Linked DNA regions of Homo sapiens: region 1 is reported to be linked to region 2. The links are microRNA targets in miRTarBase. Many come from high-throughput screens and were not tested one by one. Region 2 holds a microRNA gene; the other region holds the end of a gene's coding sequence.
What was found. The annotated mature microRNA hsa-miR-3622a-5p reads CAGGCACGGGAGCUCAGGUGAG and lies in region 2 at 3,457-3,478, shown strand. An mRNA with a match to its seed (bases 2 to 7 or 8) in the 3' UTR can be bound and repressed. Matches are read on the target gene's strand: a 7mer-m8 pairs with bases 2 to 8, a 7mer-A1 pairs with bases 2 to 7 and ends in A, and an 8mer does both.

Region 1: the mRNA of FCHSD2 is a reported target of hsa-miR-3622a-5p. Seed matches in the 3' UTR shown: 7mer-m8 at 862-868.

Annotation. Positions count from the first base shown.
Region 1 is chr11:72,834,482-72,839,481 of GRCh38, reverse strand. It overlaps FCHSD2 (FCH and double SH3 domains 2), which reads left to right. Exons shown (of 20, transcript NM_014824.3): 20 at 608-2,737. The coding sequence ends at 691. It also overlaps a transcript of ATG16L2 not described here. Among named protein-coding and RNA genes, the nearest start is that of ATG16L2, 23 kb to the right of the region's middle.
Region 2 is chr8:27,698,234-27,703,761 of GRCh38, forward strand. It overlaps MIR3622A (microRNA 3622a), which reads left to right and starts at 3,444; the gene lies at 3,444-3,526. It overlaps MIR3622B (microRNA 3622b), which reads right to left and starts at 3,534; the gene lies at 3,440-3,534. LOC124901920 (a long non-coding RNA gene) reads left to right here and starts at 2,737. Exons shown (of 2, transcript XR_007060869.1): 1 at 2,737-5,528. It also overlaps a transcript of SCARA3 not described here. RefSeq lists a silencer at 4,901-5,046.

The sequences.
Region 1 (5,000 bases), not on the chromosome of region 2:
ATTCAGAGGATTACAAAAGTCTCCTAAGTTGCCTTCTTACTTGGACTCTTGCTTGCCTCTGATCCTTTCTCCAGTTGTTACCTGAGTCATCTTTTCGCAGATCTGATATTGCTTAAAATCCACCAAAAACTCCTCTTTTGCCTACAGAATAAAGCACAGATTTATTTTTTTCTTCTTAAAGCAGATGTTTAAACATGGTTTAACAAGGCCCTTCACAACTTAACCCTAGCCTACCTTTCTAGCCTTCTCTTTTGTAACTCTCTACCCAAGACACACTGAAATGTTTCATTTCTCTAAGCATTGCTCTCCCTTGCTTCCAGCCAGACCTTTGCTTTGGAGGATGTGCTAGGATCTTAGTCATAGGACTTGTGCCCATGAGGTTTTTAGCCTAGGCAAGAAGCTGATTTGTGGGCTTGATATTTCATTGAGAACAACTGCTTCTCAGTGTAGGAAATAGTGAAGACTAGGTTGAAAGCACGTGCTCACAACATTTCTGAGACCCCTAGGGTGCCCATGTCCTTGGACAGATGAGTGATTAGGTTTTGGGGATGCTTCAGATACTGAGTCAGGAACTGACTGACAAACTACGTAATTGTTTCCTGCTCAGGTCCGGGCAGCTCCCCCTCCACCTACACAGAATCACCGAAGGCCAGCAGAGAAGATTGAAGATGTGGAAATCACACTGGTGTGATGATGGGCTTGCCCATCCATTACTGCTACAATCAAGGCCAGGCTTGGAGTTTGGCCAGTCTTGTTTTTTAGGCACCTTTGCATGATGATGACTCTTGAACAGAGCAAAAAACAAGGAGGATTATGTGTGACTGGGTGGCCTGGTAGACTCCTCCCACGTTTTGAATATTTCGTGCCTTTTTTTTTTGTTGTCATTTTCTATGTCATTTCTCCTACCATAGCACAAATCCTAGCGGACCCTAGGAGCAAAGAGGGGGGCAGCCCTCATGCCTAACAGTGGTCTGTTTTTATATGAGACTCAAGAACAGGCCTCATTCCAGGGCACAGTCCCTAAATTACTGATCATGTGCACTCGTACAGTATATTACTGTGACCACAAGGATGTGGCAAAGATTCTCATCTTTCTTCAAGTGGCTTTTGCTCATCTGATTGAGAATTAATCAGATCATGTTGGCTACATAAGGAAACAGAAGGAGGGATTTCAGGAGAGGCTGGCTCCTCCCCAAGGTTAGTCCCCAGACTGAGAAAGTGAAACCTTATTGGGAAAAATTGGACTGCCCTGAATTTAGCACCAATTGCATTAACGCACATCTCTTCCACAACTAACAGACTTAAAATAACAGTGTCCTTCGTATTAATATCTGTGCCATTCATTTAGAATTAGCAGAGCTAATATGGAGGGGCTGAACTAGTAGCCACATCTTGTTCATCACATAGACTAATAGAAAGGAGGCTGTGGCTAAAGCAGAAATGGAACTTCCGGATCTGAAATTAGCCAATATAATGTTCTTTTGTATTTGGGTATTTTTCATCTTAATTTTTACAGCATATACTCTTCTTACCAGTATCCTTAGAATCCAAATGTCTAGATAAGTTGAGGACACATACCTGCATTGTTGAGCTTCTCTACTGGGGACGCCCCGGCATTATTTTATTCCCAAGCCAGCAGACCGGCCCAGACAGCCAGGCTGTGGCTGGTCCAGACCAACTGCTATGGTGGAAAATGCAGCTTCCAGGTCCCACTACCCTGACATTTCCGTGGAAGGAAGAACCTGGTGGCTCGTGGAGGAAACCAGCTTTCTATGAGAAAGGACTGAAGGATTGCGCACCCTGCACAAGTACAGATTGACCAGGAAAAGACAAGTGTCTTCTGTGTGTCACAGGGAAAGCCAGGAGTGGCCTTCTCTGCAGGCCAGCAAGCCTGCAGCAGCAGGTGCCCCCACGTCAGGTGCTGACTGTCTGCTGTCCGCTCCTGTAGAAGGTAGGGAGCACAATACCTAGGGACTAAGGGATGTTCGCCGGTTGTGGTTTGTTTTTTTTTTTTTTCCTTGGTTAAGAAATCAAATTTGCAGAATTTAATCTACAAGTTGTATTATGCTTTGAAAACTCCATCCCTCCTAAGAATCTTAAAAAACTTGAAATGCTCGCCAAATGTCCCCATGGGATTTTTGACCAAAAGTAAGGTGATAACTGAAGAAATTTTTAGTTCTTTGATCACTTCAGTGACAATACCCATTAATGAATCTTCTCCATGATTTGGGGTTTTTTTTCGTTGTTGTTTTTTACACTTCTTAACCTGTTGATCTATTTGAGGTCTTTTGTGTTTATCAAACTTATTCTTAAGTTTAAAAAAGAAATTAAAAGGGTGGTTTTTTTAAGATTTTAAAGTTTGCTAACATATTAAAAATCTTCAAATGCTTATTAAATAGAGCAGTTCTTGCCACCCAGTCTTGTATTCTGTCTTTAGCTAGCCAAATTGTCCTTGAATTTGGGTTTTCCACAACCTCAAAGGGTTATTTGAAATCTTTTGTTGTATTTTAAAATATTTTTTGGAAGAGCTGCTAATTTTATTTTAAAAAACAAAGTTGTGAAAACATGCCTCCTTTTTAAAAAATAACCCCTCCATCCAGGATATGGAATCCAGCACCACAGTGCACAGGTCAGGGCTCGGAGGGAGCCTCTGTGCAGATGTGCTTTCTTTACAGTGGCTGTAAAAAGTTTGTATTTATTATGTATAAAATGTTGAATAATAAAAAAAATGGAATTATGTTTTCTAAGTTTTAATATAGAAAGGTTTGGGTAAACAGACCTTTCCAAAAGGCCCATGCTTCTTATAAAAACATTCCTGGGCCCTCCTTTAAACCAGCTAACAGACAGAGAGAGGAGAAAGTAAATTAATCCATCTATGAGACAGACAGTCCCTGAAGCCCCCATGTGCTAGGTGTAATATCCTGGGTACTAGAGATGGCAGTAAATAGGTTACGGTCTTTGCTTTTCCCATGGGAAAAAAAAGAAATACGTGAGGACAGTACTGTGGGACATGTGCTAGAAGGGAGGGGCAGATAGCATAGAGGCAGCTGAGGAGGGAGCTCTGATTCTGCTGCTGGAGGGGTGAGAGGAAGGTCACTGAAGTCCCCTTGCCGGATGTGACCACTGGCTTCCAGGAAGCGGGCATTCTGGATGCCTCTCCCCTTTCCTAAACCTCCACCCTAAGGAGTAATGAATTGTGTGAAAGGAGATTTTCTCGGTCCCAGGGGTGGATGGAGCATTCTTAGTCAAAGGCTGAGTCCCCCTGGCTTCCAGCCAGCCACACTGAGGACCAGGACACAGCCTGTTTGGGGAAGGGCCCCACAAGCTCTCCTCTTTCCTGGAGCTGGGGACATGCAGTAAGCATTTTTCCAGACATTATCCTGTGCATAAGACTCTTAAGTGTACACACTGCTTGTTTACATAAAAATGTGTTCAGCCGGGCGCAGTGGCTCATGCCTGTAATCCCAGCACTTTGGGAGGCCGAGGCGGGCAGATCACTTGAGGTCAGGAGTTTGAGACCAGCCTGACCAACATGGAGAAACCCAGTCTCTACCGAAAATACAAAATTGGCTGGGCATGGTAGCTCATGCCTGTAATCCCAGTTACTCTGGAGGCTGAGGCAGGAGAATCGCTTGAACCTGCGAGGCAGAGGTTGCGGTGAGCTGAGATTGTGCCATTACACTCCAGTCTGGGGAACAAGAGTGAAACTCTGTCTCAAAAAAAAAAAAAAAAAATATGTTCCAGTATAAATGTTGGGTAGATTCCTAAGTGTGGAATTTGAGGGTCAAAAAGGTATGTATTTAATTTTGTTAGATTTTGCCAAATTGGCTTCCTATAAGGACTATATCCATTTACACTCCCACCAACCGCATATGGACTTAGGAGCCAGGAGGTCTGGGTTAAATCCTGGCTCTGCCACTTGACAGCCATGGGGACTGAGCCTGTGTCCTCATCTGGAACCTGAGAATAAGACTGTGGTTCCAGGAAGGCCATATAAAGTGTGCCACAGGCTGGTCACCACGAACTCTTCTCACCACCACCTCTCCTCACCACCACCTCTCCTCACCACCACCTCTCCTGCCTTTTCTCACCACCACCTCTCCTGCCTCTTCTCAGTGTCCTTCCCTCCAGAACTAGGGTCCTTGATAGTCTTCCAGGCCCATAGTAACGCACAGAGTTGTCATAAGGCCCAAGGGAAAGAATGTGTGTGAAGTGCTCTACCAAAAATGTGGGAAGGGCTGTCAGGACACGAAATGTCATTTCCGTCTTCTGACTTCCCTGCCAGTGAAAGCTGCTTTCGGTACTGGAGGTTCCGTCTGTGACCAAGGGCAAAGCTCAGCTAACTGCCTCACCCCAGCGTCATAGCTAAATTTTGGTCTCCTTCATCACAGGAACTGACTTGATGCATGATGCAATCAACCCACAGGTTCTCAGTACACCACCTAGATCCCCTTCCTCTCTGACCCACCACCCCAGCCACATTCACAAGCCAGAGACCCAGTGGGAGGGCATCATCTGGCCTTAGCCCTGCCACTGCTTGATGGAAGACCTTTCCCTCTTAGCTGCCACATCCTCAATTGTAAAGGAATGGAATGATGGCTGGGCACGGTGGCTTACGCCTGTAATCCCAGCACTTTGGGAGGCCAAGGCTGGTGGATCACCTGAGATCAGGAGTTTGAGACCAGCCTGACCAACATAATGGAAACCCCGTCTCTTACTAAAAATACAAAAATTAGCCAGGTGTGGTGGTGGGTACCTGTAATCCCAGCTACTCGGGAGACTGAGGCAGGAGAATTGCTTGAACCCAGGAGGCAGAGGTTGCGGTGAGCCAAGATCATGCCACTGCACTCCAGACTGGGTGACAGAGCAAGACTCTGTCTCCAAAAAAAAAAAAAAGGAATGGAATGAGGTTATCTCCCAGGGCTTATCTAACTCTCATGCCCTGGATGAGTTGTTTCTAGATACAGAGAACATCACACAAAAAAGGTCACAATATTTGA
Region 2 (5,528 bases):
GAAGTGGTAAATTAGAACGTAAATATTAAAATGCATGGATTTTTTTCTCTCTGAATTCTCTTGAGAGACAACTGACTATTGTAAGGGAAGATTATTTTAAGACTATTTTAAGATAAGACTGGAGATTGGATTTATAATGTGTCAAGTTGATATGACAACAAGAGCACCAGGGATAGCTAATTGCAAATTTAATGGTGGAAGTCTAAATGTTTTCCCTTATAAACCAGAAATAAGGCAAGGATCTCATCTCCCAACACTTTTATTCTATTTGACTAGAGGTCCTCCCCAACGAAATAAGACAAACAAAGAAATACATATTGGAAGGAAAAATATAAAGCTGTATTTATTCACAGACAGCATAGTTGTTTGTATAGAAAATCCTAGGGAATTTACAAGAAAATGGCAATTATTAAAAAGTGATTTACCAATATCATAATATAGAAGGCCAATATACAAAAACCCATTGCATCTCTATATACTAGGAGCAAAAAATAAGAAAATTAAAATTAAGTAATCATTTAGCAACAGCATAAAAATATAAAATATATAGGAATGAATTTAGTAAAGGATGGGCATGATCTTTATAGTAAAAAGTACAGAATATTGCTGAAATTTTTAAATATCTTTATAAATGGAGATATATATATATAGTGGTATCTATCTATCTGTCTATCTATATATATATCTCATGTTCATGTATAAGAAAACTCACATTAATAAGACGTTCATGGCTGGGCACAGTGGCTCACGCCTGTAATCTCAGCACTCTGGGAGGCCGAGGCAGGTGGATCATGAGGTCAGGAGATCGAGACCATCCTGGCTAACATGGTGAAACCCTGTCTCTACTAAAAATACAAAAAATTAGCCGGGCATGGTGGCGGGCGCCTGTAGTCCCAGCTACTTGGGAGGCTGAGGCAGAAGAATAGTGGGAACCCAGGAGGCGGAGCTTGCAGTGAGCCGAGATTGCGCCACTGCACTCCAGCCTGGGTGACAGAGCAAGACTCCGTCTCAAATAAAAATTAAAAAAAAAAAAAGACGTTCATTTTCCTATATTCTTTTACATATCCTACACACTTCCAATCAAAATCCCAGCAGCCTTATTTTTCTTTCTTTCTTTTTTGTAAATGACAGAGTCTTGCTCTGTCACCCAGGCTGGAGTGCAGTGGCATGATCATAGTCCACTGCAGCCTTGACCTCCTGGGCTCAAGTGACCCTCCCACCTCAGCTTCATGAGTTGTTGGGATTACAGGCGTAAGCCACTGTGCCAGGCCTCGGCAGCCTTGTTTTTAAAGACACTGACAAAACTGATTCTAAAAATGTATATAAAAGTGCAAAGGATCTAGAAAATCCACAGAATTTTGAAGAAGAGTTCAGTTGGAGGGCCTATACTACATAATATCCAGACGTTCTCTAGGTCTGTCATGGAGGCTCACACCTGCAATCCCAGCACTTTGGGAGGCTCAGGCAGGAGGATCACTTGATCCCAAAAGTTCCAGACCAGCCTAGACAATATAGTGAGACCCCAACTCTACAAAAAATAAAAATTTAAAATTTCAGAAAGAAAAAAAAAGACTTACTCTAAAGCAGCAGTAATTAAGACAATGAGATAATGGTGTAAGGACAGACATATAGATCAATTGAACCACATTGAGATCCAGAAATAGATTTACACATATATATCAATTGATTTTCCCCAAAGACACCAATGATTTCAAAGTCTTTTCAACAAATGATTTTTATATGCAAAAAACAAACTTTGATATTACCTCATATAATACACAAAAATTCATCTGATATGGACCACAAACCTAAATGTAAAAACTAAATCTATAAAACTTCTTAAAAAATACATAAGATAATTTTTGTGACTTTAAGAAATATGGTCATGAAAGTCACAAACCATAAGAGAAAAATTTTGATAAATTGGATTATATCAAAATTAAAACCCTCTATTCTTTAAAATATCCCTTTAAGAACATGAAAAGAAAAAAAATCCCAGAATAAGAGAAAATATTTGCAATACATATATGAGACAAAGGACTTGCTTTCAGGATACATAAAGAACTCATACATCTCAATAAGAAAAAGACATGCAGCTCAAATTAAAAATGGATGAAAGTCCCAGCACTTTGGGAGGCCGAGATGGGCAAATCACTGGAGGCCAGGAGTTCAAGAACAGCCTGGCCAACATGGTGAAACCCTGTCTCTACTAAAAATACAAAAATTAGCTGGGCATGGTGGTGGGCTCCTGTAGTCCCAGCTACTTGGAAGGGTGAGGCAGGAAAATCACTTGAACCCAGGAGGTGGAAGTTGCAGTGAGCTGAGATCACACCACTGCACTCCAGCCTAAGCAACAGAGCAAAACTCTACCTCAAAAATAAAAAAAAAAAAAAAGATGAAAGACATGAACAGACATTTTGCAAGAAAAGTATATGAATGACCATGTAAGCACATGAAAAAGTGTTCCAGCTTCATTAATCATCAGGGAAATGCAAATGAAACCACTCTGAGATACCACTAGAATGGCTAAAATTTCAAAAACCAACAATACAAAATGTTGTGAGGATGTGGAGCAACGAGAACTCTCATGCATTAATGGTGAAACTGTGAAGTGGTACAACCCTTTTGGAAAAGTTAGGTGATTTCCTATAAATCTGAACACATACTTAACCTATGATCCAGCAATTTCACTTCTGGGTTTTTACCCAAGAGAAATGAAAATGTTTTTCTATACCAAAATTTGTACATACTATTCACAACAGCATTGTCCAGAATAGCAAAAAACTGGAAACAAGTCAAATGTTCATCAATAGGCAAATGCATGGAAAAATTATGATAAATCCATACTCACCAGTAAAAAAAAAACAAAAAAACTAGTGATATGCAAACCAACTTGGATAAATCTCAAAAGCACATTGAGTAGAGGAAGTCACTCAAAAGAGTACAGACTGTATTATTCCATTGAGATGATGTTCTAGAAAAACTAAAATGAATCTATAGTTACAGAAATCAGGTAAGTGGTTACCTGGGATGGGATGGTTAGGATGGGATTAACTACAAAAGAGAAATAGGGAAGTTTCTGGGGTGCTATAAATATTTTGATTGATTTAACAGTTACTGAGTGTATATATTTGTTAAAATTCATCAAAGTCTACATTGAAGTGTATGCATTGTATTATATGTAAATTATGCCTCAGTACAGTAGATTTTTTTAAAATGTTCTCGTAGCTCCCCATTGAACACAGGTGTCATCATGGCAAGACATTTCCTAGCTGAGAGATGCTTTTTCATTCTTTCATTCAAAAAGTAGCTTTTTCTTTCCTTCCTTCCTTCCTCTCTTTCTTTCTCTTTCTCTCTTTCTTTCTTTTCTTTCTTTCTCTTTTTTTTAGTGGCAAGGTCTTGTTTTGTCACCCAGGCTGGAGTGCAGTGGTGTGATCATAGCCAATAGAGGGTGCACAGGCACGGGAGCTCAGGTGAGGCAGGGAGCTGAGCTCACCTGACCTCCCATGCCTGTGCACCCTCTATTATATCACTCGTATGTCTACCATTGTTTGCAGATCGTGAGCTGCTTGATGACTGATGCTAGGGTGACCAACCAACCAAGTATGCCCCAAACCAAAGGGTTTCCTGGGCTTCCTGAGCTAAGGGATGTTCAGTGCTAAAACTGGGAGGCCCAGGCAAACGGGGAAAATGGGTCACCTTATCTGAGACCTTGTGCTACTCATCTCTGAAAGCATTCCCAGGCTTAGCCCCCTATCAGGTGGGTGATGTATGCTCAGTAAATGTTTCCTGAAAGGCTAGAATATGTGTGAGTAGGACACTTGAAATTCTCCTTTGGTTTCCCATGCAAACTGAGTCCTACAGTGAGAAAGCCAAGCGTAGTGGCAGATCCTGCCCCAGACACCAGGCTCGCTTGGGTCCTGCCTAGGGCGCCAGCCTCTCTCCCATGTCATTGGTGTTCTGGAAAGCAGATAAACAACTGACTTCAAGTCCTATTTAAGTTTTATGGGGTAGCCAAGGTCTTCCAGGGCTCCATCTCCAGGAAGCCCCCTCCCTGCAGCCTGGCTGGCTTTTCTTCTTCTTCTGGTGAAGTCATCCGACCCCAAGTGGCCCACAGTTTCCTTTCTCTCCACACCTCCCAAACCCGCTGCCCAGTCCTGGCACTGCCTGGGGTTACTGCTGACCTTTCAGTGCTGTTTGCTCAGAAAGTGCCTTTATGTCAACACAAACAGCCTTCAGGTTTGCCAGGGCCTGGCTCCTTTTCTCCCTGGGGTCCAGGGTAGAAAAACAATAACCAGTGGGAAGGAGAGCGAGCCATAGGGGAGTGACGCGTCCCTGGACCTTGGGTCTCTGTCCTCTCAGCCCTGTCCCTCAGGGCCTCCTTTGTCAGAACTCAGTTCTGTGGGGAGAGGGTACTGGGGAGGCAGCGGCTTTAAACAATGCCACAGTGTCTGGCAGGGAGCTGCGTGCTTGACCTGATTAGGCTCAGTGAGCCCGGGGGAGGGAGGGAGTGAAGGCAGGCTTGGGAAAGTGTTTTCCATCCCCACCCAACAGACTTTGCTTCCTTGTATCTCTGCCAAGACCTCTTTTTGGGGAGGAAAGGCCGAATCGCCTCATTTCTACAGGGGCACCTTGGCCTCGCTCCTCTAAACCTGGGTAAGCTCTTTGACCTGCCTGTCCCCCTCCCTCTTGTCTTTCCTTCCCACCAACCAGCTCCCAAACAGAAAGTGTTTTTCACACTCGCAGCTCTCCCTCCTCAGGCCCTGCCAGGCCCGAAGCTGGGCCCAGAGGCCAGCTGGCACCCACATGAAAGGCCTTCCTGTCGAGAACTGGCATGGAACCCAGGGCCTCAAGGCTGCCCACACCACAGCCCTGGCCCAGGGTCCAGAGCACAGGGCCACGGAAACTTGGCCACAAGGCTCTGGGGAGAAAAACAGCCTGAGCCGCACAGGAGAGGAGCCTCCCATCCCCGCAGCCTGGCTGGGCACATCAAGGGAGAAAGCGCAGTGCCCAGAATCCTTTGAACATGAAGCCGCAGCACCTGCACCTGGCAGAGGACCCGGGAACCAGGGATTCGTGCTGGGGGCAGCACTTGGGGTTTGTTAGTGCAGGTGGAGAGAAAACAGGAGAGTAGCAATTTCCAACCCATCAGCAGAAAAAAGTGAAAGCTGAGAAGTCAGGGTGAGGCTGGAGGGGACAGGATGGGGTGGCTGGGTGGGCCCAGAATTGAGATCTGATTTGCAAAATGGTGGCAAAAGGCAACAGACTGCGGCTCCCTTGAGAGAAAAACCTGGTCTCCCAACCGGCAATGGGTGTGGTTATCAAACGCACAGCCATGCCTGTTCCCAGGATGCAGGTGCAGTCTGGATAAACTGAGACTAGGGTTGGGGGGGATCTGTTCAAGGTTGCACAGCACCTTCAAGATGGGGCTTGAACTACAAACCCAGGACTCCGGACCTGGAAAGAATCTCCTAGGAGGTTCTGGAGGGTTCATTCTTGGACAGAAATCTGGGAGAACCTACAGCAAA